7 linked regions of the Homo sapiens genome follow. The protein of the gene in region 1 purifies or fractionates together with the protein of each later gene. This does not show direct contact. Each region holds a gene or a part of one and is shown in the gene's direction. Other genes may lie near its edges. The genes, in order: MYO10, KRT85, FBXO45, CSRP1, EZHIP, NIPSNAP1 and PPP6C.

Evidence for each region.
Region 2: the proteins of MYO10 (region 1) and KRT85 purify together in Homo sapiens (affinity purification with mass spectrometry, with the first as the bait; one large-scale study listed by BioGRID). This does not show direct contact.
Region 3: the proteins of MYO10 (region 1) and FBXO45 purify together in Homo sapiens (affinity purification with mass spectrometry, with the first as the bait; one large-scale study listed by BioGRID). This does not show direct contact.
Region 4: the proteins of MYO10 (region 1) and CSRP1 purify together in Homo sapiens (affinity purification with mass spectrometry, with the first as the bait; one large-scale study listed by BioGRID). This does not show direct contact.
Region 5: the proteins of MYO10 (region 1) and EZHIP purify together in Homo sapiens (affinity purification with mass spectrometry, with the first as the bait; one large-scale study listed by BioGRID). This does not show direct contact.
Region 6: the proteins of MYO10 (region 1) and NIPSNAP1 purify together in Homo sapiens (affinity purification with mass spectrometry, with the first as the bait; one large-scale study listed by BioGRID). This does not show direct contact.
Region 7: the proteins of MYO10 (region 1) and PPP6C purify together in Homo sapiens (affinity purification with mass spectrometry, with the first as the bait; one large-scale study listed by BioGRID). This does not show direct contact.

What each region holds. Positions count from the first base shown.
Region 1 is NC_000005.10:16,698,396-16,702,554, reverse strand, and holds part of MYO10 (unconventional myosin-X), read left to right. Parts: coding exon 1-12; intron 13-716; coding exon 717-1,592; intron 1,593-2,981; coding exon 2,982-3,105; intron 3,106-4,159. UniProt on the Homo sapiens protein: Myosins are actin-based motor molecules with ATPase activity. Unconventional myosins serve in intracellular movements. MYO10 binds to actin filaments and actin bundles and functions as a plus end-directed motor.
Region 2 is NC_000012.12:52,361,335-52,364,481, reverse strand, and holds part of KRT85 (keratin, type II cuticular Hb5), read left to right. Parts: exon of another isoform or gene 1-61; coding exon of another isoform or gene 62-115; coding exon 116-176; intron 177-318; coding exon 319-414; intron 415-1,071; coding exon 1,072-1,236; intron 1,237-1,502; coding exon 1,503-1,628; intron 1,629-2,010; coding exon 2,011-2,231; intron 2,232-2,983; coding exon 2,984-3,015; intron 3,016-3,147.
Region 3 is NC_000003.12:196,585,491-196,590,049, forward strand, and holds the end of FBXO45 (F-box/SPRY domain-containing protein 1), read left to right. Parts: 3' UTR 1-3,569; downstream 3,570-4,559. UniProt on the Homo sapiens protein: Component of E3 ubiquitin ligase complex consisting of FBXO45, MYCBP2 and SKP1. Functions in substrate recognition but also plays an important role in assembly of the complex.
Region 4 is NC_000001.11:201,482,947-201,487,105, reverse strand, and holds the end of CSRP1 (cysteine and glycine-rich protein 1), read left to right. Parts: intron 1-1,729; coding exon 1,730-1,823; intron 1,824-2,316; coding exon 2,317-2,393; 3' UTR 2,394-3,576; downstream 3,577-4,159. UniProt on the Homo sapiens protein: Could play a role in neuronal development.
Region 5 is NC_000023.11:51,405,390-51,409,775, forward strand, and holds EZHIP (EZH inhibitory protein), read left to right. Parts: upstream 1-1,558; 5' UTR 1,559-1,627; coding exon 1,628-3,139; 3' UTR 3,140-3,454; downstream 3,455-4,386. UniProt on the Homo sapiens protein: Inhibits PRC2/EED-EZH1 and PRC2/EED-EZH2 complex function by inhibiting EZH1/EZH2 methyltransferase activity, thereby causing down-regulation of histone H3 trimethylation on 'Lys-27' (H3K27me3).
Region 6 is NC_000022.11:29,577,932-29,582,531, reverse strand, and holds the start of NIPSNAP1 (protein NipSnap homolog 1), read left to right. Parts: upstream 1-1,418; 5' UTR 1,419-1,449; coding exon 1,450-1,547; intron 1,548-4,600.
Region 7 is NC_000009.12:125,148,727-125,152,250, reverse strand, and holds part of PPP6C (serine/threonine-protein phosphatase 6 catalytic subunit), read left to right. Parts: intron 1-2,329; coding exon 2,330-2,578; 3' UTR 2,579-3,524.

The sequences.
Region 1 (4,159 bases):
CGCGCCCAGCAGGTAATGAGTGCAGTGACAACTTAGCCTCTTGTGTTTCTACTTCCTTCCCACTTCTAATGCTTGGACTCTAGGATTCAAAACTGAATTAAAGTAGAAAGATAACAGGAAGAACAATTTAAGAGGATGTGTTTATGATCCAATTTCTGACCTATTACAATTGGGTAAAGCGTAGTGAATGGCTGAGGTTTTAGTGTGCATCACAAGAGTATAATTTCTCTAAATCGGTATAACCAGCGTGTTAGTTTGCTAGGCCCACCACAGCCAAATACCACAGACTGGTGGATTGAACAGTGGAAACTGATTTTCTCCCAGCTCTGGAGGCCGGAACTGCAAGATCAAGTTATCCTTAAGTTTGATGTCTTCTGAGGCCCCTCCCCTTGGCTTGCAGGTGGCCGTCTGTCCAGTGTGTCCTCACGCAGCCTTTTTTCTCTGTGTGACCTAGTCTCCTGTTCCCAAAAGGACACCAGTCATCTTGGATTGGGGCCCACCCTAGTGAACTCATTTTAACTTAGTCTCCCCTTTAAAAGCTGTATCTCCAAATGCAGTCACATTCTGCAGTATTGGGGTTAGGACTTCAACCTATAGACTTTATGGGGACACAGTCCAACTCATAATGACCATATTTCATCCTGGTTGCAAAGCGGGAGCTATGCTTGGACTTTTGTACTGAAGCCTTCTGAAATCTCCCTTCTGCTTCTGTCCAGGAAGAAGAAACGAGGAAGCAGCAAGAACTCGAAGCCTTGCAGAAGAGCCAGAAGGAAGCTGAACTGACCCGTGAACTGGAGAAACAGAAGGAAAATAAGCAGGTGGAAGAGATCCTCCGTCTGGAGAAAGAAATCGAGGACCTGCAGCGCATGAAGGAGCAGCAGGAGCTGTCGCTGACCGAGGCTTCCCTGCAGAAGCTGCAGGAGCGGCGGGACCAGGAGCTCCGCAGGCTGGAGGAGGAAGCGTGCAGGGCGGCCCAGGAGTTCCTCGAGTCCCTCAATTTCGACGAGATCGACGAGTGTGTCCGGAATATCGAGCGGTCCCTGTCGGTGGGAAGCGAATTTTCCAGCGAGCTGGCTGAGAGCGCATGCGAGGAGAAGCCCAACTTCAACTTCAGCCAGCCCTACCCAGAGGAGGAGGTCGATGAGGGCTTCGAAGCCGACGACGACGCCTTCAAGGACTCCCCCAACCCCAGCGAGCACGGCCACTCAGACCAGCGAACAAGTGGCATCCGGACCAGCGATGACTCTTCAGAGGAGGACCCATACATGAACGACACGGTGGTGCCCACCAGCCCCAGTGCGGACAGCACGGTGCTGCTCGCCCCATCAGTGCAGGACTCCGGGAGCCTACACAACTCCTCCAGCGGCGAGTCCACCTACTGCATGCCCCAGAACGCTGGGGACTTGCCCTCCCCAGACGGCGACTACGACTACGACCAGGATGACTATGAGGACGGTGCCATCACTTCCGGCAGCAGCGTGACCTTCTCCAACTCCTACGGCAGCCAGTGGTCCCCCGACTACCGCTGCTCTGTGGGGACCTACAACAGCTCGGGTGCCTACCGGTTCAGCTCTGAGGGGGCGCAGTCCTCGGTAAGTACCTGCCTGGCGTGTCCCAGTGAAATGGGTGGCCGGTCACACCCACCCCTGTTGCATCCTCAAGTTGAATGAAGATACCCGTAGGATATCTGTGCAAAGATTGCAGAGTCGTGGTCTTAGAGATCATCTTAAACCTTTTGCTTATTCCATAAGCCAATTGCATTCATAAGTAGAACTTTGATGTGCCTGTTTCAGTTTTAGCACAAAGCCTAGAGCTGAGCTGTGCCCAAGACTTCAGAAAACTGGCTATTTATTTATTTATTGTTGTTGTTGTTGTTTTTGAGGTGGAGTCTTCTCTGTCATCCAGGCTGGAGTGCATTGGCAGGATTTTGCCTCACTGCAGTCCCCACCTCTCGGGTCCAAGCTATCCTGCTGCCTCAGCTTCCTGAATAGCTGGGATTACAGATGCCCGCCAGCACACCGGTCTAATTTTTGTATTTTTAGTAGAGATGGGGTTTTACCATGTTGGCCAGGCTGGTCTTGAACTCCTGACCTCAGGTGATCCACCTGCCTCGGACCCCCAAAGTGCTGGGATTACAGGCGTGAGCCACCATGCCCGGCTTAAAACTGGCTTTTTAAATGGAACTTTTGTTTATTTTATTTTATTTCTTCCTTCCCTTTTTTTACAATTTGAATGGAACTTTTAGCTTTGCCGTGCTGCGTTAGGAAATGAAGACACATCCTGAACTGGAACAAGACTTGCCAGGGGTGAACTGGCAAACTTTCCTTGTACTAACTTCACAATCCAAACCACACGATGTTATTTCTTATAGTGGCTGTAAAGGAAGAAGCTGCAGGGCTTAAATGTACTCTTTTCCAGTTTCTGGATTTATCTGTAGTTTACTTTTATTTTGTCGCTTTGGTCGTGCATTGAATGTTCTCTTGACTTTCAAAGATTTGAAAATATATTTAATATAGTAATTCAGAGGGGGTGAACTCTTGCATGGTTTGATTAAAATTATAGCCTTAAAAAGCATTGTTAGTTTTAGGGCAGATAGCCTTTGGATTCAAGTATATCTTGTCTTTCATGTATCAATTCAACTGACCATTTGACCTTAAAAGTTGGTATTTTTAATTCCGAATTATTTGTGTGCTACCGTAAATCAGGCGTATTGCTTGTCAGTTGTTTTTTTTCTTTTTCCTTTTCCCTTTTTTTTTTTTTTTTTTTTTGAGACTGAGGCTTGCTCTGTTGCCCAGGCTGGAGTGCAGTGGCACGATCTCTGCTCAGTGCAGTCACTGCCTCCTGGGTTCGAGTGATTCTGCTGCCTCAGCCTCTTGAGTAGCTGTATTTTTGTATTTTTTCAATGATGATACATGCTGGGTATCTTCGTGGCTTGCTTTGTGGCCTTTTCCCTCACCGTTGGCTTCTCTCTCTCGGTCCAGTTTGAAGATAGTGAAGAGGACTTTGATTCCAGGTTTGATACAGATGATGAGCTTTCATACCGGCGTGACTCTGTGTACAGCTGTGTCACTCTGCCGTATTTCCACAGCTTTCTGTACATGAAAGGTATGACTGCAGCCGCCATGGAGTCTGGGTTAGGGGGAGAGCGAGGCGTTATTTTATCCGGGCTGATGGATGGCGGTGGGAAATAACGGAGGTGTTATTGTATCTGGGCTGATGGATGGGGACTGGGAAAGTCGTTCTACCTACCCTTACCTCAGTGTTGGGCCACTTAGATGAATGAAGGGACACCTTGTCATGTTGGTGTGACATGGGTGCTGTGGTCCTACCAGCATGAACACAGTCGTGACTCCCCTGGTTTGGTGCAGAGTGGCAGGACGAAGCATTTGCAACCACTGCCTCCAGTATCAGTCCTTCTCCCCTGTCTCTCCCTGTCTCGTTTTCCTTTCTTAGCTCTTTCTTCATCCTTCTATTTTCTCTCCCTCTCTCTCCCACTTTCTCTTTCACTGTCTCCCTCTCTGTCTCAGTCTCATTGCTCTCTCTCATATATACAGACATACAAACCAATGTGTGTGTTGCTGCTGCTGCTGGAATTGGTCGAGACCCATTCTCATGATAAACTGCATGTTCTCGGCCGGGCGTGGTGGCTCACGCCTGTAATCCCAGCACTTTGGGAGGCCGAGGCGGGTGGATCATGAGGTCAGGAGATCGAGACCATCCTGGCTAACACAGTGAAACGCCGTCTCTACTAAAAATACAAAAAATTAGCCGGGAGCGGTGGCGGGCTCCTGTAGTGCCAGCTACCTGAGAGGCTGAGGCAGGAGAATGGCGTGAACCCAGGAGGCGGAGCTTGCAGTGAGCCGAGATCGCGCCACTGCACCCCAGCCTGGGCGACAGAGCCAGACGCTGTCTCAAAAAAAAAAAAAAAAAACTGCATGTTCTCTCCTGCCAGGGATATTAGAGAGCCTAAAAGGATGTGCTAGACATGGGGGAAAGTGAAGATCTCACTGAGGCCCACTGCTGGCTTGAACTGCTCACCATACCTACTTCATGATGAGCATTTGCATTGTATGCTTTGATTGTTACTAACATTTGAGTATACTTTGCTGAACCTTAACACTTAGGGGCCTTGAGGCACACTCCTTTTGGAAAATTATTT
Region 2 (3,147 bases), on another chromosome or scaffold:
ACAACATCTGGAGGGGATTAATCCCTTTTCAATCCCCGGAAGAACTTGCCCAGGAGTTGGGATGGTATTCAAGGTCCAGTTTCTCAGCTCCAGACCTTCTCTCTCCCACACCCAGGTATGAAGAGGAGGTGGCCCTGAGAGCCACAGCAGAGAATGAGTTTGTCGTTCTAAAGAAGGTGAGGGGCTGGTCATGGGGCAAGGAGGAGGGGGCCCATCAGTGCAAACTCCAGCGAGGGGCAGGGTCACCATGCTGACCAAAGGCACCTTTCTTTGGTCTCCTCTCACATGCATGTCCCCTCCTCTTTGTCCCACGGCCAGGACGTGGACTGTGCCTACCTGCGGAAATCAGACCTGGAGGCCAATGTGGAGGCCCTGGTGGAGGAGTCTAGCTTCCTGAGGCGCCTCTATGAAGAGGTAAGGGGGCAACTGCCACCCAGCCAGGGCAGGTGGAGGGGTGTTTTGGAGACAGGGGAGCAGTGAGGCAAGGGTGCATGTGTGTGCCTATGTTTGCCAATGTGCAATGTAAGTGTGAAAAGAGCTTGCACATACGTGCTGGGGCCCACAATACAGAGGCCATGTCCACGTTCATGTGTGAGAGGAGCATGGGGTGTACATGTTCTTGGGCTGCTCTGTGTCTGTGACCTCTCTGCATGTTGGTGTGCTGCCTGTGTGAGTGCCAGTCTACAGATGGGCAAGAGAGTGTGCATGTGTGGTGGGGGTCAGGATGGCTTCGCACATAGGGCATGGTCCTCATTAATGGACTGACTAATCACTCATCCTAGCCTCCAAACCCCAGCTCCCCTGCTGGGTGACTTTGGACCAGATCTTTTTCACCCTCTGGGCCTCAGTTTTCCCACTTTTAAGGCAGACACTGTTCCCAGATGGCCTCTACAGCCCCTTTCAGCTTTGTTGTTTTTAAGGAGCCTGTGCATGAGTGAAGGTGGTAGGAGCAGGAGTCATGTAACCTTCATGACCAGTGCCCGGTCTGGGAAGTGGACATTGTCCCCTGGGGTGGATCACGTGGCCCAGATCAGGCACTAGAAGCAAATGCACTGGCTGTTGGCCCCACAGGAGATCCGCGTTCTCCAAGCCCACATCTCAGACACCTCGGTCATAGTCAAGATGGACAACAGCCGAGACCTGAACATGGACTGCATCATCGCTGAGATCAAGGCTCAGTATGACGATGTTGCCAGCCGCAGCCGGGCCGAGGCTGAGTCCTGGTACCGTAGCAAGGTGAGTGGCACAGGACACCTGCCTGCTAAGCATGGCAGTGGGAGGGAAGTTAGGCATCTATTAGAAAAGATTTCTCTTGCCTGGGGATTCTGACCCATGAGGACAGTATGAGAAAAGCCAGTAGTTCTCAGGTTGAAGTGGCAGGGCAGGACTGCCATGTGTGGTTGCACAGGCTGAGCACCGTACAACCTGTATAGTCATCTGTGGTGTCCTGAATGGATGGGGGGCCCCACCCTGAGCCTCATGAGCATCTCTACTTCCTCCAGTGTGAGGAGATGAAGGCCACGGTGATCAGGCATGGGGAGACCCTGCGCCGCACCAAGGAGGAGATCAACGAGCTGAACCGCATGATCCAGAGGCTGACGGCCGAGATTGAGAATGCCAAGTGCCAGGTGGGGTCTGTGGAGGATTCAAATACGCAGCACAGGCAGGCTGCAGCACCTGGCCCTAATCAGGCTTCACAGTGTGCCCATGAGGAAGCAGGGACCCAGAGGGAAGGGAGGGGCTCTATCATATTTCACAGCAATCAGACCATGTCACTGACTTCCAAAGGAGGATCCAGCCCCTTCCTTGGCCACCCTGTGACCGCCATCAAGGAGAGATGATGAAAAGCCCACCCATCTCCTCCCTCATATTCACAGCCCCATTAACTACCTGGCCACGGGCCAACCTTCTCTCCAGGACCCTCCTCTCCCTGCCCTGGCTCCATCAGCTTGGGTGAGCCAAGCTGTGGCTTCTCTTTCTCATCCTGGCCCTTGTATCTCCACCTGATAGCGTGCCAAGCTGGAGGCTGCTGTGGCTGAGGCAGAGCAGCAGGGTGAGGCGGCCCTCAGCGATGCCCGCTGCAAGCTGGCTGAGCTGGAGGGCGCCCTGCAGAAGGCCAAGCAGGACATGGCCTGCCTGCTCAAGGAGTACCAGGAGGTGATGAACTCCAAGCTGGGCCTGGACATCGAGATCGCCACCTACAGGCGCCTGCTGGAGGGCGAGGAACACAGGTGGGGCTAAGAGGACTTTGTGGGGTTTCAGAGGTGGAGGCTGTGGTCCTCCAGGAGTGAATTTCCTTGAGCTGAGTGTGAGCTACAACTCTGGCCATGGCTAATACAATAGCTTCAATAATAATAATAATAATAACTGAATGCTTCTGTGCTAGACCTGTGCTAAGTGTTTATTTTATAATCCTCACAATCCAATAAGATAGATATGGTTTTTCCCATCTTTTTATCTTTAGATAAAGAAGCAGGCTCAGAATTCAGTGCCTTTATCATGGCTACGCAGTTAATAAGCAGAAGAGCTGGGACCTGCACCCAAGTCTCATGCCTCCCAAATCCGTCCTTGTTGAATAGCTTCCTACTGAAGCTGCTGCCACACAGGCCTGTGTGTTATGATGATGATGCACTTCTATATGCATTTAGCTCTTCATCAACCACAAAGCCCCTTCACACCCTGGTGTATCTGATTCAACTCTCCTTCCTGTGAGCTTGATTGGCACCATCCAGGCTGGCCACCATCACTCAAACTAGGGGCACTGTTCATAATCTTACCCACTGCTGCTGAAAATCAGAAAGCCTTGTCTTCATGGTTAAAACCATCAAAGAAAGAAAGCATTTAATGCAGATTTGAGGGAGCCCTTCTTGCCTTTCAGGGGTAGACTCTGTACACAGGATGACCCTCTCTGTCCCCAAGCAACCATCAGTCTCAAGGAATCCAACTCAGTGTCTGGAACTAACAGAGTTTTCTTTCTCCATAGGCTGTGTGAAGGTGTGGGCTCTGTGAATGTCTGTGAGTATCTGCCTGAAATTCTCCTGGAAAAATGGCTTTTTTGATAGAAAAGCTGAACTCATTGGCCTAACCCATGGAGCCTCGAGTGTTCCCCCAACTGTTTCACCCTCCCCTGGCTCCTCAGTGGGGGCC
Region 3 (4,559 bases), on another chromosome or scaffold:
GAAACAGGTTAAGAATATTCTTAATCTCATTATAGATAATTGCCCCCATGGGACTTGAAATACAACACCTTGTGCTGAAAACTTCAGGTTGGCAATATTTGAAGGTTTCGTTGTAGAAGAGTTTAACATTAACTCCTATTTTGACTTACAAATCTTGTTTCTCATCACTAAAATGCTTTTGAATTAATAATCCAACCCACATGAGCTGAGAGTTTTTCTTTTGTTAGAAAAGAAACAGACATCTTTCTGTATGAAAGTATAAATTGTATGGTTTTAGATACATAAGAATTGACAAAAGCGAGCGAAATCTTTGTACTTCTGAGTTCTTGCTGTATGTATGTTTTGTTTTAAATCTGATTAGGGACACCCAGCAGCTGGCCGGGATTCTTGGATTGCTCCTTGGGAGTTAAGATTGTCAATACTCCTGTGAAGCAAGGGATTTCAGCCATAGAACAAAGATTTATTGTTGCCACCTGAAAAGTTTACAAGTATTTATTGTGTATTTGATACATTGCTTGAAAAGATGAAATCTGTTAAAGATTCTTTTCGATGTCCAGGTTAAGAAGAAACCTCCTTGTATTGAGTGAAATTATATGTTAAATGTATTAGAGAATGTAGGTGGTATAGAAATTGATTTTTCTTGGTGTAGAACAACTCAGTTCGGCAAAGTTTAAAATTTGATTAAACAAGAGAAGTGGTTCAGGTTGAAGATGGACTTGTTAGGAAGTGATCAAGTCCTTTAAGTACTTGTTTCTTTTTCAGGTTGTGATGTGGCCATTCCGAATTTTGTTGAGAGTTTGGTTTATAATTGTCTCTTTTGTCTTGTTAGTAAACATTCATTTGCAACAGTTTTGAAGGTGCTGAGTGGAAAACCGAAACACATGGTTATTGCGTATTGGACCTAGAATGAAATAATTGCCTCAATATTTAACAACAAGCCATTCTTATCTCAAAGATTTAAATTCCCGAATGTCCCATTCGCAAATCATATGCAATTGAAGTGAGCAGCATGAGCATCTGGGTCATGAGGGCCTTCATTTACGTAAATTTGTCACTAAAACCCAGTAGTAGCTCTACAAAATCTTAAACTGCTGCAGTGCTCAAGGAGATGGAATATCTTTGTCATTGGTGCTGAGGAGAGCATTTCGGTAGAAGACAGTTGCGCCTGAAGATTGAGTGTAAATCATTCAAACCAGTGGTTCTCAGTGTTGGCTGTATACACTTTGTAGTCACTTTGGAATGTTGGAAGACACATCGATGCTTGGGTTCCGTATGCCAAGATTCTGATGTTGGTCTGGAATATGAGCTGGTCATAAGGATTTTTAAAAACTTTCTGGTCATTTCAATATGCTGCCAAGGTTGAGAACCACTGTTGTAAAATTCACCTTGAGTTTTCTCATCTGCAAAATAGAAAAAAAAAAATCCTTGCTCCCTCCCTTCACTACCTCACAAGGATATTGAGGGTAAAGGAGAAAATAATGGGAAAGTGCTTGTGCCGTGGATGAAAAGTGCTATTAAAAGTCAAAGGAGTGTTCTGTTTCAATTCATAGTATGATCAGGGAAAGTGTAACTGAGTATACTTTGTTGACTTGGGAAACCTGGAGCACTTTCTTTGGTTGGTTAACGAAGCATGCAGATGTGGAAGCAGACGTTACTATTATCCCTACTATGGTCTTCTGTCATACTGAGACAGGCTGTTTTAATTACCTGGTTTTACATAGGAAAGAAGAAATATTAAGGCTTAAAGTTTGTAATGATCAATGGCTCATAATTCATTAAATCTTTTCATACAAGGAATTTGTGGTTAATGTCATTTCATAGTTGCCATTATTTTCTCATTATTTGACTTAAATGTTAAGCCATTTATTTCATCTCCCTCATTCACATAAAGTGTAGATATGGATTCAATAAGACACCAAAAGAAAGTAAGATTTACCCAGTTAATATTTAAAATCATTGTTCAGTGATTAGGCATTTTCTGCCTTTTAGAATTATTTGACTGGAGAAAGAGTTTCAAAAATAGCAGAGCCCTAAACCATAAAGAAACTACTACTGTATAATGAACTTTTGTTTGTTTTTGGAGACAGGGTTTCACTCTACTGCCTAGGCAGGTCTTGAACTCCTGGGCTCAAGCAGTCTTCCTGCCTCAGCCTCCCAAGTAGCTGGGATTACAGGTGTATGCCACTATACCCAGCTTTAACTTTTAAATCCCCAAACTATGTAGATTGTCATATTAATATTAATTTTTTTTTGTTATTTTGAAGAAGTGAGTAATTTGAAGAGATAGAAACTTAGGGAGTGGTGTGTGTGTTTCTTTTTTGGAGACAGAGTCACGCAGGCTGGAGTGCACGATCTTGACTCACTGCAACCTTTGCCACCCAGGTTCAAGCAATTCTCGTGCCTCAGCCTCCCGAGTAGCATGTGCCACCACACCTGGCTAATTTTTTTCTTTTTTCTTTTAGACGGAGTCTTGCTCTGTTGCCCAGGCTGGAGTGCGGTGGTGTGATCTCAGTTCACTGCAACCTTTGCCTCCCGGGTTCAAGTGATTCTCCTGCCTCAGTCTCCCGAGTAGCTGGGATTACAGGCACCTGCCACCATGCCTGGCTAATTTTTGTATTTTTAATAGAGACGGGGTTTCACCATGTTGGCCAGGCTGGTCTCGAACTCCTGACCTTGTGATCCACCCACCTCAGCCTCCCAAAGTGCTGGGATTACAGGCATGAGCCACTGTTCCCGGGCCTAATCTTTGTATTTTTAGTAGAGGGGGTTTATGCCATGTTGGCCAGGCTGGTCTTGAACTCCTGGCCAACACCACCCACCTCGCCTCCCAAAGTGCTGGGGTTACAGGCGCGAGCCACCGTGCCAGGCCAGAAATTTAAGGAGTTTTAAAGGTTAGCATTGAAAAGATTACTTTCCAGAAATTGAGACCACCACAGTTCCACAATTGGGACTGTGGTAGATAATCAGGACCACTTGGAAGCCTTTATTAGGAACAGCCCACACCCAGCCCAAATGCTGTCCTCAAAAACATTCCTCAGTTTCTCTAGCTGAATGTAATCTCTCCTTGAAATTTCCCTAGTTTTATATATCTATAGTTGACTCATGCTGTATTTATTTATACCTTGTTTAAAATTATTTATTGATTATTTATTGGTGTCATATCGCCCCTAAACTGGGACAGGATCTCTAACGGACTCATCTTTGTGCCACAACATGTAAGCCCAATAGGCAGGTGCTCACATATTTGCTGAAGGAACAGAGAAAGAACTGCGGAGAAAGACAAAAGCTCCTCTGAAGTTTTAGACTATAGAAGCAAAAATTATAGTAGCAAAAGATGAATGAGAAATTCTGTTCTAGTCCCAGTGAAGCAGGAAGGAAAGGGTTGCAAACTTGAGGCTGGTAAGGAAGAAATAATTACTGTGAATGCATTTAGCCACTCCCCTCTACTCAAAAATACTGGTAAACTCTGATTTTTATATTTGTTTAGAATTTAAATTAGAATTCTGTATCTTTATTTTTTGGAATTCTGTTGTTTTGCCTTAGTTTCTTAATAAAAAGTTAAACATTAACCACCTGTGATTGCTTACATTTAAAGACATTTTTTACACATTGGTTAGAAAGAAAAATTGGGGTGCCTTAATAGCCAGAGGTGGTGATGGAATTTACCTATAAATTCCATGGCTTTAATAATAGAATCCACATTCCCCATGTTTAGAATGGAAAGTGGACAGAGAACAGTAATTCACTAGGGTCTTATTTCCCAATTGCCTCTACCGCCCCCCACCCCACCCTCCTGCTGACATTTGTTTGATAATGCAGTTGTTTGCCAAGAATTATGAGAGACAGGCATGCTATTCCTGAACTGGCTGAATACACGGCTCCTGTGATCCAAAAGCTTAAAAGAGAATCAGTTGATGATGTTGCTAAACAAGTTGGCTGATATGTTAAAGTTCAAAGCATTTTAATTTTTTTTTTTTTTTTTTTTTTTTTTTTTTTTTTTTTTTTTTTTTTGAGACAAAGTCTTGCTCTGTCACCCAGGCTGGAGAGCAGTTGATGTGCTCTCGGCTCATTGCAACCCCTGCCTCAGGTGATCCGTGTGCCTCGGCCTCCCAAAGTGCTGGGATTACAGGCATGAGCCACCGTGCCCAGCCCAAAGCATTTAAATTTTATAAAAGAAAAATAGGTGTAAATGTTCTGTATTTGCCGCTTTGTTTAGTGGAAAGAGACGCCAGAGACAGCTTTACCAGTCTGTTGTCCTGATTTCTTTTTTGGATCCTCCCTCGAACTGTTTGCTTCTTATTTAATGTGTTCACTAAAATACTGTTGAGAGCAACATGTTCTCTAGTCTTCAGAATAATAGTTTGCTGAAAGAAGTAGCCCTTTAAGATTTAAGATTGTTATTCAGCTTTTGTATGTAGGATTTCATGATGAGTGGCTCAAGAAGTAGGAATCATTTGGGGAGTTTCCTTAGGTCACCCTGTTGATAGTGTTTAATTTCTGTTTAAGGCAGGAAAACATTAAGAAAAGATTAGAGAAGTCAAGTCCTGTCTATGATATGA
Region 4 (4,159 bases), on another chromosome or scaffold:
GAGATAGTACATGTATAATGTGCAATGTAGTGCCTGGTATGTCCTCAGTACAGTTTTGCTATTGTTATTATTATTGTTGTTTATTTTCAGGGATTATTTTGAGGTCACAATGAAGATCCTTGCCATTGACTAAAGGATATGAAAACAGGAGACATTAATATTATTATTAAGTTGGGTTTTTTGTTCTATCTCATTATGAGAATAGAAAATTATTAAGAATAGCTAAGAATCACTATTTCCATTACTTAGGCAGGCTATAAGGTAAAGTTAGGGCTGTACTAAGGAGTAGGATAAGAGAATTTTGCATTCAAGTGGAAAAGGTAGGGAGAAGCCCCACCTTTCTATTGCCTCGCTCAAGAAATGTTGAGCTGGGAGTACTTTTGGGTGCTTATGAATGAGCAAAGGGATTCAGCTTATTTTGGCAGGGAGGTGGCTAGGAAATATGAGGAGAGGTGTTGGTCTAGGTGTGATTCAGTTTTTCTCCAGCCTAGAGAGCTTGGGGTAGCAGCCCCTGCTTTACAGAGGAGGCAGCAAAGGCTGGGTGACTATTGAGGTTGCACCAGCACTGACCTAGACCCAGGTCCCCCCATTTCAGCTCTCTGGAGGAGAAGCCAATGTGCAAGGTTAGGCAACCAGGAAATCTGAGGGGATGAATTTCCTTTCTCATCCACCAGCCTGGGCACTGGGAGTGTCTTTGCCCTTAAAAGGCCTTGTTTTGTCTTATCTGACTGCTGCCTGCCTCTTGCTTTTCCTGGGTTAAGCAGAGCTGTCTACACATCAGCCTCTTAGCCTGCCCAGCTGTTGATGGGAACTGGCTGCGGAGAAGTCTGTCTGTGCAACGTCCCATCACTGTGTACAAACTCGGGCCTCACTTTTTTTCTGGGACAGCTGTTTGCCCTGTGTTACAGAATGCATGTGAGGACTAGATATTTAAACATATGATGCCTGGCCACAGAGAAGGTATTTGTAATTGGATTCTCCTGGACCAGCCCAGCCTCTGAAGTTCTAGAATTAGGTGCCTCCTTTGCCCAAAGGCTATCAGCTATTGGAGGGGAGGGTGGCAGTATGTCCCTCACTGGGTAGCTGTGAACACTAACTGACTTCACCAGTGTAAAGTGCCTGGCACAGGGCCTGGCACAGAGGAAGCCAGAGTCAATGTTGTCTAGTATCACTTTGGAAGGAGAATAAGTCTATGAAATGCATTAAACTCAGCAGGGAAAGTCCTAAGGAGTAGTTTCTCCAGGGGCCACAGAAGACCCTTTGGGTCTCTATGAGAGGCCCCAAGGCAACACAGGGCAGAGAGGTCTTTCTGGTGAGGGCTGTTCAAGTACTAAGTGACAGTACCAGGAGGAGTGCAAAGCCCTGGCTCACACCACTGATCTACTGGCAAGATGGGTCTGGAGAAGGCTCATCTGGCCCAGCCAGTGGGGTAACAGCTACTTTGGTGTTAAACCCACCCCCTCACCTGCCTTTTGTGGTATAGCTGGTGACCCTAATCATCAGGCCATTGCAACATAGCATGGAAGATGGTGCGAGGTGGCGTGTGGTCCCTGGCCTTCTCCCTCTACTGCCTTGCACCATAGGCCATGTCCTCCCAGCAGCACCAGCTGAGTAGACTTCAGAAGTGGCTTGAGCCCTTATACCATGGTTATGTCAAAGGGAGTGGGCCTGGGGTGGAGGGTACCCTCATCACTGGTGGCAGCCATTAACTATTTCCTTCCCTGCCTAGTCCTGGCATAAGGCCTGCTTTCGATGTGCCAAGTGTGGCAAAGGCCTTGAGTCAACCACCCTGGCAGACAAGGATGGCGAGATTTACTGCAAAGGTGGGTGTTTTCACTTCTAATTGAGGGTCAGGAGGCCCAAGGGGGTAGGGGGGCTAAGTAGTTTTGCCTTTGCTGAATGTAAACTAATTCCTGGCCTTGGGATCCAAGATCTGAACATCTAGTATGATTCCTTCATTGTACAGATGAGGAAACAAGACCAGAGGGGGAAAGCAACTTGGCCAGCATCATCTGGCAAATTGAGGCAGGCATAGGGCTAGACCCTGGCTTCCTAACTCCCAGTCCAATGTTCTTACAGCAGATGATGCTTCTATAATTTTGGTGGCAGGGGCAATGGGTACAGGGTACAACCAAGAGCCTCTTCGCTATTTTACTATTGAGATTGGGGTGCTGTGGAGGTGAGGGGGTACCAGTGGACCTTCCTTCCCTAGCAGTCTGGCTGGGCACTAGGAGTGGGGGATCTTCAGCAGGAGGGTGGGTGGTGTGGCTGGGGGTGGAGGAAGAACATGCCCTTATCTCTCTCCTCTCTCTGCAGGATGTTATGCTAAAAACTTCGGGCCCAAGGGCTTTGGTTTTGGGCAAGGAGCTGGGGCCTTGGTCCACTCTGAGTGAGGCCACCATCACCCACCACACCCTGCCCACTCCTGCGCTTTTCATCGCCATTCCATTCCCAGCAGCTTTGGAGACCTCCAGGATTATTTCTCTGTCAGCCCTGCCACATATCACTAATGACTTGAACTTGGGCATCTGGCTCCCTTTGGTTTGGGGGTCTGCCTGAGGTCCCACCCCACTAAAGGGCTCCCCAGGCCTGGGATCTGACACCATCACCAGTAGGAGACCTCAGTGTTTTGGGTCTAGGTGAGAGCAGGCCCCTCTCCCCACACCTCGCCCCACAGAGCTCTGTTCTTAGCCTCCTGTGCTGCGTGTCCATCATCAGCTGACCAAGACACCTGAGGACACATCTTGGCACCCAGAGGAGCAGCAGCAACAGGCTGGAGGGAGAGGGAAGCAAGACCAAGATGAGGAGGGGGGAAGGCTGGGTTTTTTGGATCTCAGAGATTCTCCTCTGTGGGAAAGAGGTTGAGCTTCCTGGTGTCCCTCAGAGTAAGCCTGAGGAGTCCCAGCTTAGGGAGTCACTATTGGAGGCAGAGAGGCATGCAGGCAGGGTCCTAGGAGCCCCTGCTTCTCCAGGCCTCTTGCCTTTGAGTCTTTGTGGAATGGATAGCCTCCCACTAGGACTGGGAGGAGAATAACCCAGGTCTTAAGGACCCCAAAGTCAGGATGTTGTTTGATCTTCTCAAACATCTAGTTCCCTGCTTGATGGGAGGATCCTAATGAAATACCTGAAACATATATTGGCATTTATCAATGGCTCAAATCTTCATTTATCTCTGGCCTTAACCCTGGCTCCTGAGGCTGCGGCCAGCAGAGCCCAGGCCAGGGCTCTGTTCTTGCCACACCTGCTTGATCCTCAGATGTGGAGGGAGGTAGGCACTGCCTCAGTCTTCATCCAAACACCTTTCCCTTTGCCCTGAGACCTCAGAATCTTCCCTTTAACCCAAGACCCTGCCTCTTCCACTCCACCCTTCTCCAGGGACCCTTAGATCACATCACTCCACCCCTGCCAGGCCCCAGGTTAGGAATAGTGGTGGGAGGAAGGGGAAAGGGCTGGGCCTCACCGCTCCCAGCAACTGAAAGGACAACACTATCTGGAGCCACCCACTGAAAGGGCTGCAGGCATGGGCTGTACCCAAGCTGATTTCTCATCTGGTCAATAAAGCTGTTTAGACCAGAACTCTGGTGTCCAATCCTGTGTCTGTGGAGCTGGGAGGGAACTCAATGGGAGCAATCAAATTAGCAGGGGCTTTGGGAGGCCGAGGCAGGCGGATCACCTGAGGTCAGGAGTTTGAGACCAGCCTGGCTAACATGGTGAAATTCTGACTCAACTAAAAATACAAAAAATGAGCCAGGCATGGTGGTGGGTGCCTGTAATCCCAGCTACTTGGGAGGCTGAGGCAGGAGAATCGCTTGAACCCGGGAGGCAGAGGTTGCAGTGAGCTGAGATCACACCATTGTACTCCAGCCTAGGCAACAAATGTGAAACTCTGTCTCAAAAAAAAAGCAGGCAGCCTGGTGGAAATGAATCAAAGTGGATTCGTTCCTGCTTTTTCTAAGGACCAATTACTTCTCAGTATCAATGCCAACTGAACCACACTGTCTGAAGTGACCCGACCAGCCAAACACCACTGGCTTGTCCTGTCTGGTCTCCACCCCCAAATCTGGGCCTGGGAATTGCATGGACTTTGGACTTGGAGGGGCTCAGCTAGGCCCCAAAACTGTGCTCAGAACTTCTCCCAGCTCGGAAAGCCCCAGCCTAA
Region 5 (4,386 bases), on another chromosome or scaffold:
AGGAGTTTGAGACCAGCCTGGCCGACATGGTGAAACCCTGCCTCTACTAAAAATACAAAAAATTAGCCGGCCATGGGTGGCACGCGCCTGTAGTCCCAGCTATTCGGGAGGCTGAGGCAGGAGAATTGCTTGAACCCGGGAGGCAGAAGTTGCAGTGGGCCGAGATCATGCCACTGCACTCGAGCCTGGGTGACAGAGCCAGACCCCACCTCAAAAATAAATAAATAAATTAATTAAGTAATTAAAATAATTACAAATGTTCATAGACTTGTACCAAGAATTTTCTCTTCTGGGAATTTATCCACAATGACACATTTAAGGATATGAACAATTTTTAATGAGAAGGATGTGTCTCACAATGATGTAAAATGTTGGAAACAGCATAAACGGTGGCCAATATGGGAATGTTTGAAAATGTAAACTTCTTTTATAAATGGAGTATTTTGTAATTTAAAGTGGCCTCGTAGAAATTTGTTTACTGACATAGAAAATGTGCTTTCTGGAACCCAAAGCAGGTTACAATGCAGTATCTATGGAGAAACTATTCCATTTCATAAAATAAAAAATTTAAAAAACTATGAAATATGTATGAATAGGGCCTTTCTACCAAAGTCTAAGTAAAAATTTCCAGCACTTTCCCATGGGTGCCTGAGGACTTAGGTGTAGTTTTCTTACATTTGCTTTTCTGTTTTGAGTACTGAACATGACACCTTTTGTAATAAATAATGACTAAAAATGAGTGGCCAAATATTAAACTTCAAGTCTATACATTACAGCATATTTATATTAATTAGGAGCTAGAGACCACACTAAATAAATTAATATATGTTCATCAGCGGATTACTACGCAGCCCATAAAATATTTAAGGACGGTGTCACCCTTAACCTTAGGCAATCCCTAACTGTGCCTTGGGGGAAAAGGCACAGTTCTAAATCCCCCTCTGGTGTGTGGGACCTGAGGTGTGTGGGACCTGGGGGAAGCAGCAGTGCTGAACATCCGGAGGCAAGACGGTGTGGGCCCCTTCCCTTTTCTCGCCTTCAGGCCTCTGTATAACCCTAAAACCCACCAGACCCCACATGGGGTCATCTAGATGCCTGGAGGAGTTCCAGGGTGGTCCCTTCGGGCGTCATGCCTGGTTTCATTGTCCTGACCGGGTGCGAGGAGGGACACCTGGCCAGGAGATATAACCTGCCGGCCAGTGTGGCATTTCTTTCAAATGACCACTTAAGCCTCAGCCACGATTTGGGGTGACTCAAATCGTTCATGTGGAACACACACACACACACACATATACACACACACGTGTCTTAGGGACGGACACACACAAACACGTGTCTTAGGGGCCCCGTGTGAGGAGAGGAGATTCACACTACTGACCCAGCAACCAGGGTCGACCCCAGAGGGCTGGAGCACACACTCCGGGTTGACGATAGGCGCCTGGCTCTGGGTTGCACGGCTCCGGATTGGACGGCTCCCGGGAAGAGAGAGGAGTCATCTGACGTCCAGCTCGCCAATCAGAGTCGAGGACTGGCTGGGCTCCACCCACCTTCTTGCTCTACCAGTTCGCGCTCTCCTCCGGCAGAAGTAGCAGCTGCGCTCTTGCTCTCTGGGGGAGAACCTGGCGTTATGGCCACTCAGTCAGACATGGAGAAGGAGCAGAAGCACCAGCAGGACGAGGGGCAGGGAGGGCTGAACAACGAAACCGCCCTTGCCTCCGGGGATGCCTGCGGGACCGGGAATCAAGATCCTGCTGCTTCCGTCACCACAGTCTCCAGCCAAGCATCTCCCTCGGGCGGCGCCGCCCTAAGCAGCAGCACAGCCGGTTCTTCCGCTGCAGCCGCCACCTCCGCCGCCATTTTCATCACCGATGAGGCCTCGGGGCTGCCAATCATAGCTGCTGTGCTGACGGAGAGGCATTCTGACCGCCAGGACTGCCGCAGTCCTCACGAAGTTTTTGGGTGTGTGGTGCCCGAGGGGGGCAGCCAGGCCGCTGTGGGGCCCCAGAAGGCCACTGGCCACGCCGACGAGCACCTGGCCCAGACCAAGAGCCCCGGGAACAGCCGTCGTAGGAAGCAGCCCTGCCGCAACCAGGCTGCCCCGGCTCAGAAGCCTCCAGGGCGGCGTCTGTTTCCTGAGCCTTTGCCGCCATCTTCTCCAGGGTTCCGGCCCAGCAGCTATCCCTGTTCCGGGGCTTCTACGTCGAGTCAGGCAACCCAGCCAGGCCCTGCACTCCTAAGCCACGCATCTGAGGCAAGGCCTGCTACCCGAAGCCGCATCACCCTGGTAGCTTCTGCTCTCCGCAGACGTGCATCTGGTCCAGGCCCTGTCATCCGAGGCTGCACCGCCCAGCCAGGCCCTGCTTTTCCACACCGCGCCACTCATCTAGACCCTGCTCGTCTAAGCCCTGAATCTGCGCCAGGCCCTGCCCGCCGAGGCCGTGCATCTGTGCCAGGCCCTGCCCGCCGAGGCTGCGATTCTGCGCCAGGCCCTGCCCGCCGAGGCCGCGATTCTGCGCCAGTCTCTGCCCCCCGAGGCCGCGATTCTGCGCCAGGCTCTGCCCGCCGAGGCCGCGATTCTGCGCCAGGCCCTGCCCTTCGCGTCCGCACAGCAAGGTCAGACGCCGGTCATCGCAGCACCAGCACGACGCCAGGCACTGGCCTCCGGAGCCGTTCCACCCAGCAAAGATCAGCCCTTCTCAGCCGCCGCTCTCTGTCTGGGTCAGCTGATGAGAATCCTTCCTGTGGGACTGGCTCAGAAAGGCTTGCCTTTCAGAGCAGATCAGGCTCTCCTGATCCTGAGGTCCCAAGCCGTGCTTCCCCGCCTGTTTGGCATGCAGTCCGTATGCGTGCCTCCTCACCCTCACCCCCTGGGAGGTTCTTCCTTCCCATCCCTCAGCAGTGGGATGAGAGCTCCTCCTCCTCCTATGCTTCCAACTCCTCCTCCCCGAGTAGGTCTCCTGGCCTAAGCCCCTCATCCCCTTCCCCTGAGTTTTTGGGCCTGAGATCTATCTCCACTCCTAGCCCTGAAAGCCTTAGGTATGCTTTGATGCCTGAGTTTTATGCTCTGAGCCCTGTCCCTCCAGAAGAGCAGGCAGAAATAGAGAGCACAGCTCACCCCGCAACACCGCCTGAGCCGTGACCCTCTATAAGCATCCTCTAAGACCCACAGAAGGAATCAACATTTACCCACTTTGTGAATGGGCTGCCTGCCCTGTAGTTAGCTGCGAGGTCTCCCAAAGTTCCAGCCGTTAACCAACATCCTGAGTAGTTTAGAAGCCTCTCCTCCCCATGACTCCACCACCTAGCACTTAACCTGCTGTTGGCCTTTGATTCTGGGCCACCTTCTTCCTCAAGAGTTTGCCTTTGCCCTTGAGCTGAGATTTCTGTTTTCCAAGTTGCTTTTCTGTTATGAAATGTTTTAATTAGTAAAATAAATTGTTTTGTTTAAACAAAATGTAGAGGTGTGTTTTTTTATTGCGGTTCGAAAAATCGTTAATCCTATATCATATTTGGAGGGTTAAAGAAAGTTGTTAACATACTAGCTGACTCTTTGGACGAGAGAAGAAATAAAATACTGTCCTAGCAATAATTTATTCCCACTGGCTGAAATGGAGTTCTGTGCAGGAAGTTCCCACTTAGGTCTATATACCCTCTTAGCAGAGGTGATTTGCAACTTGGGCAAGAAAAGGGGCCAGGGTCTAACCCAGGTGGCTGGAGAAAAGGAGGGGTGATGGAGACATCCAGGGTCAGGAAAGGAGCAGGGAATGATGAAGTTTGGGATGAGAGGTAGGGAGACGATAACCCAGATGGGAGTAGGGAAGCTGGGAGGAAGATCCAGAGTCAGGAAATGGGGAACAGCAGGAGTCAGAAGCTTGAGAGGGGAATATCTTAGATTCTAAAGGATAAAAAAATGTTTATGTGTGGGGAACGGGCTCCTGAGGTCTTTGGGGGTGGGGAGAATGTGGGAGGGTGATTTGGGGCTAATAATTGATGGGAAAATGGTCAGACATTCAGTGGAAATACGTGTTAATCGATAATGTTACTGTAACAAAAATAATTGTAACTGAGTTTGAGCAGATATGTGAGGGTGTGTGTGTGTGTGTAGACATTTGGAGAGAACTACATGGGCATACACCATGCTGTGAACAAGGTGTATATCTTTTTTTTAATAACTGGTGATATGGTCTTCTATAATCTACAAGTTCCACATTGACCATATAACTATTTTTTTAAATTAAACTCCGCTGTTTTTTGAAAATTTAAGTTGTAGAAACATAATAGGAGAGACTACATTAAAAGAACAGAGTGAAAAAATATAAAGCAAACCAGCAAAAGAAACTCCCTTTCCCTCCTTTCTCATATTTCTCCTCTCCTTTGCTATTCTGG
Region 6 (4,600 bases), on another chromosome or scaffold:
CGATCTCGGCTCACTGCAACCTCTGCCTCCAGGGTTCAAGAGATTCTCCTGCCTCAGCCTCCCGAGTAACTGGGATTACAGGTGCCCGCCACCATGCCTGGCTAATTTTTTTGTATTTTTAGTAGAGACGGGGTTTCACCCTGTTGGCCAGGCTGGTCTTGAACTCTTGACCTAAACTTCTGATCCACCTTTGCCTCCCAAAATGCTGGGATTACAGGCATGAGCCACCATGCCCGGCAGCAAATTTATAGTTCAACTTTGAAACAAAGATAACAGCCCTCTCCCAAAATAAACCCCTTTCTTGCCTGGGGACCAGACTGCTTTTGTAAGACTAACAAATTAGCCACGAGATTAGAAATTACGGTTTAGGAGTCATGCAGGTAGTGGCCACAGATTCTAAACCTCCCCAGTTGCTCCTAGGGATAACATCACTACTGTAAAACCTAAGATTGGTGCTCAAGATATTTTTCCGATCCTGCACTCAATGGATCCGCTGGCGATACACAGATTAAGAAACCGGATCATCCGGTTTTGTGGCCCCCACCCAGAGATCCACTCAGCACAAGAGGACGGCTTCCACTCCCTATGATTGCATCTCCGACCTGACCAATCAGCACTCTCCACTCTCTGGCCCCTACCCACCAAATTATCCTTAATAAAACCCAGTCTCCGAATTTTCAGGGAGACTGATTTGAGTAATAATAAAACTCCGGTCTCCCATTCAGCCGGCTCTGCATGAATTAAACTCTTATTGCAATTCCTCTGTCTTGATAAATCCGCTGTCTGGGAAACGGGCAAAATGAACCCATGGGGTGGTTACACTGACCCTCTGCTGCACATCCCGGACAGCCTTGTTAAGAACCCTTGGTAGGCTGGGCATGGTGGCTCACGCCTGTAATCCCAGCACTTTGGGAGCACGAGGCAGGCAGATCACGAGGTCAGGAGATCGAGACCATCCTGGCTAACACGGTGAAACCCCGTTTCTACTAAAAATACAAAAAATTAGCTGGGCGTGGTGGCAGACGCCTGTAGTTCCAGCTACTCGGGAGGCTGAGGCAGGAGAATGGCGTGAACCCAGGAGGCGGAGCTTGCAGTGGGCCGAGATCGCGCCACTGCGCTCCAGCCTGGGCGACAGAGCGAGACTCCGTCTCAAAAAAAAAAAAAAAAAAAAAAAGAACCCTTGGTATTATTGTTCCACGCTCCCATTTTACCGAGGTGGATCCTGAGGCCCAGAGTGGGCAAAGGGCTTGCCAAGGTCGCAGAGCGCGCAGAGGATTAGAACCCTGACTTCCGTCCAGCACCTGCGGAGTTGGAGACGCCCACAGGAAACGCCCACCTGACCGGGTGAGTGAGGGGGCGGGCGAGCCGGAGGGGTGGAGTTTATTCGCGCCCCGCCTCCGCCACCAGGGCTTGGGGGCGGGGCCTTCCTGCAACCTTTGCGGCTCCAACATGGCTCCGCGGCTGTGCAGCATCTCTGTGACGGCGCGGCGGCTGCTGGGGGGCCCGGGGCCTCGCGCTGGGGACGTTGCGTCTGCAGCTGCGGCGCGGTGAGAGCCCGGCCAGGCAGGGATAGACGCGCGCGGGGTGGGGTGCAGGCGCGGGGGCCAGGGACTGGGTCGTGGGGGAGGGGCTGAGACTCCTCGCTTGGAATCTGGGGGTTAGAGGCGGGGCAGGATCAAGGCCTAGGGAGGGGTCTGGGCAAAGAATGGGGGAGGTGAGAAAGGGATGGGTAGGGTCTTTGTCCTGGTTGGGACCGGGCTGTGATGGGGACCTGATGAAAGATGGTGAGAAGGGCAGGTACTGGGCCCTGGAGAGTGGGAGAGGGCAGAAGACAGGAGGAGTGGCCCATTCCCAGGCGTAGCTTGTGATTTAACACCCACTGGGGGCTTCTGGTAGTCAGCTCCTCCGTCGGGAAGTTCTGTGGGAAAGAGATGATGGCAGGGGAGCAGTGGGGGATCCCCAGGGGCCATGGCTGCACAGACCCTTTGTTCCTCCACCTCGAACTGTACAGGTGGGGAAACGGACCTGAGAGGGAATGGGAGTTGTCCAAGGTCACCCTCCCTGCTGTGCCGTGGCAGCACCAGGTCTGGGACCCAGGCCTGCCAATGCGCCATGCACTTTGCACCCAACTGGTGGCCTCCTGGGAGTGGGAGTCTGGCTGGGCCATGTGCTCTCAGCCTGGGCTTTTGTTTGGGCCCTGCTCTGGGCTGAGCTAGGGCTTGGCCTCCCTGACTGGCCCTGGGCAGCCCCTCACTCCTTGGTCCCCACAGCCCTGTACTTCCCCCATCTCTGCATATATGACCCTGCACAGTTATGACTTGGTGCTTGTCTGTCTCTCTCACTAGACCATGATCTCATTTTTCTCTGTTTCCCCAGCCTCCCACCCTCAGAGGGCTCAGGACTGTGTATGGTCAAGGAATATTTACCAAAGAAGTGAGGCCACCTGTTCCCCCTCCCCCAACCTGTGAAAAGGAAGCAACCATCCCTCCTGCCCTGCAGCCCAGGAATGAAGCTGCAAAGTTCTGATAGTGCCTGCCATGAGATGTTACAGCACAGAGCAGTGGGGCTTTTGGACAGCTGGGAAAGAGGAGTGGCATAAGCGCCCCACCTAGACTGCCCAATAATTAGGGATAAAGCTGACACCGTGGGAAAAGCCTAGAGTTTGCCTGGCACTAACAGATCTAACTCAGACTTTGTAGGTGGGGTGACCTCAGGACTCTTTAAGCCTCGGGTTCCTCATCTGTAAAATGGGAGTAATCAGGATGTATCTCATAGGGTTGTTGAGGATTAAAGATGCTGTGGTTGGTCGGGTATGGTGGCTCATGCCTGTAATCCCAGCACTTTGGGAGGCCGAGGCAGGCAGATCACTTGAGGTCAGCAGTTCAAGACCAGCTTGGCAACACGGCGAGATCCTGTCTCTATAAAAAGTACAAAAATGGCCGGGCGCGGTGGCTCACGCCTGTAATCCCAGCACTTTGGGAGGCCGAGGCGGTGGATCACGAGGTCAGGAGATCGAGACCATCCTGGCTAACACGGTGAAACCCCATCTCTACTAAAAATACAAAAAATTAGCTGGGCGCGGTGGCAGGCGCCTGTAGTCCCAGCTACTCAGGAGGCTGAGGCAGGAGAATGGCGTGAACCCAGGAGGCGGAGCTTGCAGTGAGCCGAGATCCTGCCACTGCACTCCAGCCTGGGCGACAAGAGTGAGACTCTGTCTCAAAAAAAAAAAAAAAAAAAAAAAAGTACAAAAATTTCACCATGTTGGTGAAAACGTGTCTCTACTAAAAATACAATTAGCTGGGTGTGATGGCTCACCCCTGTAATCCCAGCTACTAGGAAGCTGAGGCAGGAGAATCAATTGAACCCGGGAGACAGAGGTTGCAGTGAGCCGAGATCACGCTACTGCACTCCAACCCGGGTGACAGAGCGAGACTCCGTCTACAAAAAAAAAAGATTCCGTGGTTGTGAAGTGTCTAGCACTTGACGAACATGCAGTAAGTGTTGCTCCTTAACCCCTAGCCTATGTTTCAAGCAATTTCTGCATGTGACCCACATAATGTTGAGGCTCAAAGGGCTCTGGGAAGATCATCTTTTATGAGCCCTTTGTTTTCCAGATAAAAATATCAAGATTGGGGAAGGGACAGAATGGATTGGTGGTAAAACCATTTGTGTGGCAAACACCCAGAGGCTGTAAAAGGAGCATGGGTCTCAGAGTCAGCCTGCTGCCCCTCACTCAGTGACCCTGGATGAGTTGCTGAACCTCCGTCAGCCTCAGTTTCCTTTTCTGTAAAGTGGGGATGTTGGTGTTTTCGGCAGGATTGCTATGAAGCCACTTGAATTAATGTTTATCAAGTCCCTCAAGGACTGTCTTGCAGTTACTTATACCTTAATTCCACATTGGATACCTGAGAACACTCTGTCCTGCTGCCCCTCAGGCTGCCCCATATCTCTCCAGAGTCACTAGTAGGGCCAGCAGCAGCCCTTCTGGCCTGTGAGGTTTGGGGGCAATGAGGCTGCTGGGGTGGGGATGGAGTGTGGGCTTTGAAATCAGATGGACCTGGGCCAGGCACCATTGCTCACGCCTGTAATCCCAACACTTCGGTAGGCCAAGGTGGGAGGATTGCTTGAACCCAGGAGTTTGAGACCAGCCTGGGCAACATGGCGAGATCCTGTCTCTATAAAAAATACAAAAATTTGGCCAGGCACAGTGGGTCATGCCTGTAATCCCAGCACTTTAGGAGGCTGAGGCGGGTGGATCACCTGAGGCCAGGAGTTCAAGACCAGCTTGGCCAACATGGTGAAACCCCATCTCTACTAAAAACACAAAAATTAGCCAGGCCAGGCCTGGTGACTCCCACCTGTAATCCTAGCACTTTGGGAGGCCCAGGCAGGCGGATCATGAGGTCAGGTATTCAAGACCAGCCTGGCCAACATGGTGAAACCCCGTCTTTATTAAAAATACAAAAATTAGCTGGGCATGGTGTGTGCGCCTGTAATCCCAGCTACTCTGGAGGCTGAGGCAGGAGAATCGCTTAAACCAGGGAGGTGGAGGTTGCAGTGAGCTGAGATCGCACCAGTGCACTCCAGCCTGGGTGATAGA
Region 7 (3,524 bases), on another chromosome or scaffold:
GGTAAAGCCAAATCAAAGGAGTAGGTACAAAAGAGAATCCAAGCTACATAGTCAAGCAGATGATGATGGATCAGGCTTCTTCCTCCCAAGAAACATTTGCTGCGCTGTGCTGCCTCCCCCCTCAACCACCCCCCACCCCCTACCCCATGGCTGCTCAAGCCCAACTGCCTACTCCTGCCTTACAGGGTGCTCAGCCACCGGGACTAGGTTTGGGGTTGCCCAGGGCTCTTGCCATAATTTAGCATAGACCTTGGGGAGAACTGCTCACACATGGGTTGGCTTTGCTGCTGGTTGTTCTCAACAAAGAAAACCCTGAAGCATTCACATGCAGAGTAGTCTGAGCTTCTCCAGTCACAGTCAAACACCCCCACACAACATCCTCAAAAGTCTGAAATCTTGTAACAGCTGAGCTATAGTTAAAGCTGCAAGGCTCACAGAATCATCAAGGAAGCCAGAATGAGACAATGCAGATAGGAAGTCCCAGCAGTTAATCTCAATCCTTCTTTCTTCATTTCGGATAAGCTCAGATATACCTGATGTGGGATATAGAAAGCTACACTGGAGCAAGCTGGGTCTTCTGCTGAATTCGTCATCAAATACCAAGGGAAAACAAGGGGTGGGGTGGATTTTATTCTTAAAAAGCCTCAGAAGTTACTGTATTATAAAGGGACATGACTGAATAGGTAAGAAACGGATTCTTCATTGTGAATTTTCCTGATGGCTTCTGCAAGGCTCATAGAGATGTTGATCACCTGTATTTTGGAATGGTGCTTCATCTTGTCCTCCTGGGGTATGTTATTGGTGACTACTACTGCTTTAAAGCATGCGTTGTTGATGTGAGAAATAGCTGGACCAGAGAAGATTCTGTGAGTCAAGATAGCATAAACTTTGGTGACTCCAGCTGAGAGAAGTTTGTCAGCTGCATGGCAGATTGTGCCACAAGTGTCAACCATGTCATCCGCAAGGATGGCCACCAGATCCTTCACATCTCCCACAAGCACCATGCGGTCGACTTCATTGGCCTTCTTTGTGAATCAAGGCAAAGTCCACATTCAGCCTGTCTGCAATGGAGGTCACTCTCTTAGCTCCACCAGCATCAGATGAAACAATAGTGCAGTTCTTCTGCTCAGAGATATTCTCCCTTATCCACTTCAGGACACCTGGCTCTGCATACAGATAGTCCACTGGGTTATCAAAAAAGCCCTGAATTTGAGAAGCATGTAGGTCCATGGTGATAATATGATCTGCGCCTGCCACAGATAGCATGTTTGCAACAAGCTTGGCTGAGATTGTCACCTGACTCTTTATTATCCTGCTGGGCATAAGGGAAGCATGGGATGACTGCAGTAAGCTGGCTCGCTGAAGCAGTCTTGCAGGTATTAGTCATGATCAAAGGCACCATTAAATTGTCATTGATTTTGCCACAACCACTCTGAATGATGTAGACATCCTTTCCACGTACACTTTTGCCAATTTCCACACAGGTCTCCTAGTTGCTGAATTTCTCAATCACTGCCTTGCCGAGCTCCAGGCCCAGGCGATCGGCAGTTTTCTGAGATAAGCCCTGGTGGGAGCTGCCGCTGAAGATTTTGATATTCAGGATCCTGGCCAACTACCCTAAGCACTCTTCACTAAGTGATCACTGCTGCTGCAGAGACTGCAACCAAAGTCGGCCCAGAGACTCAATACTAATCTCTTTGCGATGCTACTCCGCCATCTTCAAGATAGGCAGTACTTTGAACTTTCAACTGTTTTCAGTTAAAACACACACACACACTTTGAACTTTCAACTGTTTTCAATTAAAACACACACACACACACACACACACCCCTTATATTGGGAAGTGCTCCAGCATCATAATGAAGTCAAAAAACTAGATTCTGATCCTGCATCAGTGTATCTTAATTTAGATAAGTTATTTATCTAGTCTGAGCTTTTGTTTCCTTAAGTTGCAAAAGAATAATCTCTTTCAGAATTATTGCAACATCTACATATACTAAACCTTCAGTAAATGGTAGATACTGATAGCAATATCTTTATTATTAAATCAGAAAACACAAAATTTTGTTTCATAGTACCTATTGAATGCTTTTTCTTCCAGAAATTTCTAACTGTTTATGTAGCTGTACAGTTTCCATAGTTGTGCACTTGACTCAGGCCAAAATTGCTGTTTGCCTAAACTTATTAAATTGTTGGAGATAATTATAGAGTGCGTTCTATAATCTTGATGCCTTTAGTAGTAATAGGATTTGGTATTTTATTTAAATGATTATGTAGGCCGATTGTTTTTTAAGTGCTAAGTACTTACAGTGCCTTTCTAAATTGCAGTTTGTTCATATCAACAACTTAAAACTCATCTGCAGAGCACATCAACTAGTGCACGAAGGCTATAAATTTATGTTTGATGAGAAGCTGGTGACAGTATGGTCTGCTCCTAATTACTGCTATCGTTGTGGAAATATTGCTTCGATCATGGTCTTCAAAGATGTAAATACAAGAGAACCAAAGTTATTCCGGGCAGTTCCAGATTCAGAACGTGTTATTCCTCCCAGAACGACAACGCCATATTTCCTTTGAGGCCTTCGCCCATCCTGCTGACCCATTTTTCTGCCCTCTTCTTACCCCAATTTTCTTGTATTACCCTCTACAATATACTTTTTATTGAGCACTTTGCTGCTGAAATGCTGCCTCTTGCCTTTTTTTTTTTAAATTTTAAATTATCTAAATTTATTGTTTGTTGTGGTGTCTATAGCAAAGTTTTTCTATCAATTTTCCCCCATCCCATCCCCACCCTGGACTCATTTGAGAAGACTTGAGAAATGTCTTAATACTCACACTGCTGCATGTAGCTCTTGCTTATTTACTGGTCTGGGAAACAGGATGTGTTTCCTTTTTTTAAAAGCCAATTGACAGATTACACCTAAATACTCCTCCTTTTGTATCATTCAGCCTTTTGTTTTAGTTTGGTAAGTTTTAAGAAATTTCAGCAGCAAAGTTGTTATTCAGTGGGCACGATGGACTCCAAATGCCTCAAGTTATGTATACCTGTCCCAGATGTAAACTTCATTGTCCTTTGTTGGATGATATTTTAAATGGATATAAAATAAATTGGTCTAAAGGGCTGCCCTCCTTGTTGTGTTTTTAAATTTTAGTTAAAAACTGCTACAGCTTATGACTTTGTACTTTAAGATAATTGTATTGATCTTTTTTCAGATTCCTTGTATTTTTTAATAAAGTAATCTTAAATAAAACTCAGATAGGTTAAGTGTTAGAAATTTTAAACAGCTTACATTGTTAGCGTAAAGTTATCTTTTCTTTTTTCCTAATCAGAGTTCTTGACCCTTTGGTTATTGAGTTTAAAACTTCAATTGAAATTCAATAGTATTTATTTTTGAAAAAAATCACTAAACTGTGCCTAAAGAACATAACTGCCATATTAATGTTTTGGTTTATATCCTCTATAGTAATAGAAAAACATTTAATACTTGTAATGCTGATGTGTTAATTTGATACCAGTTGAGTA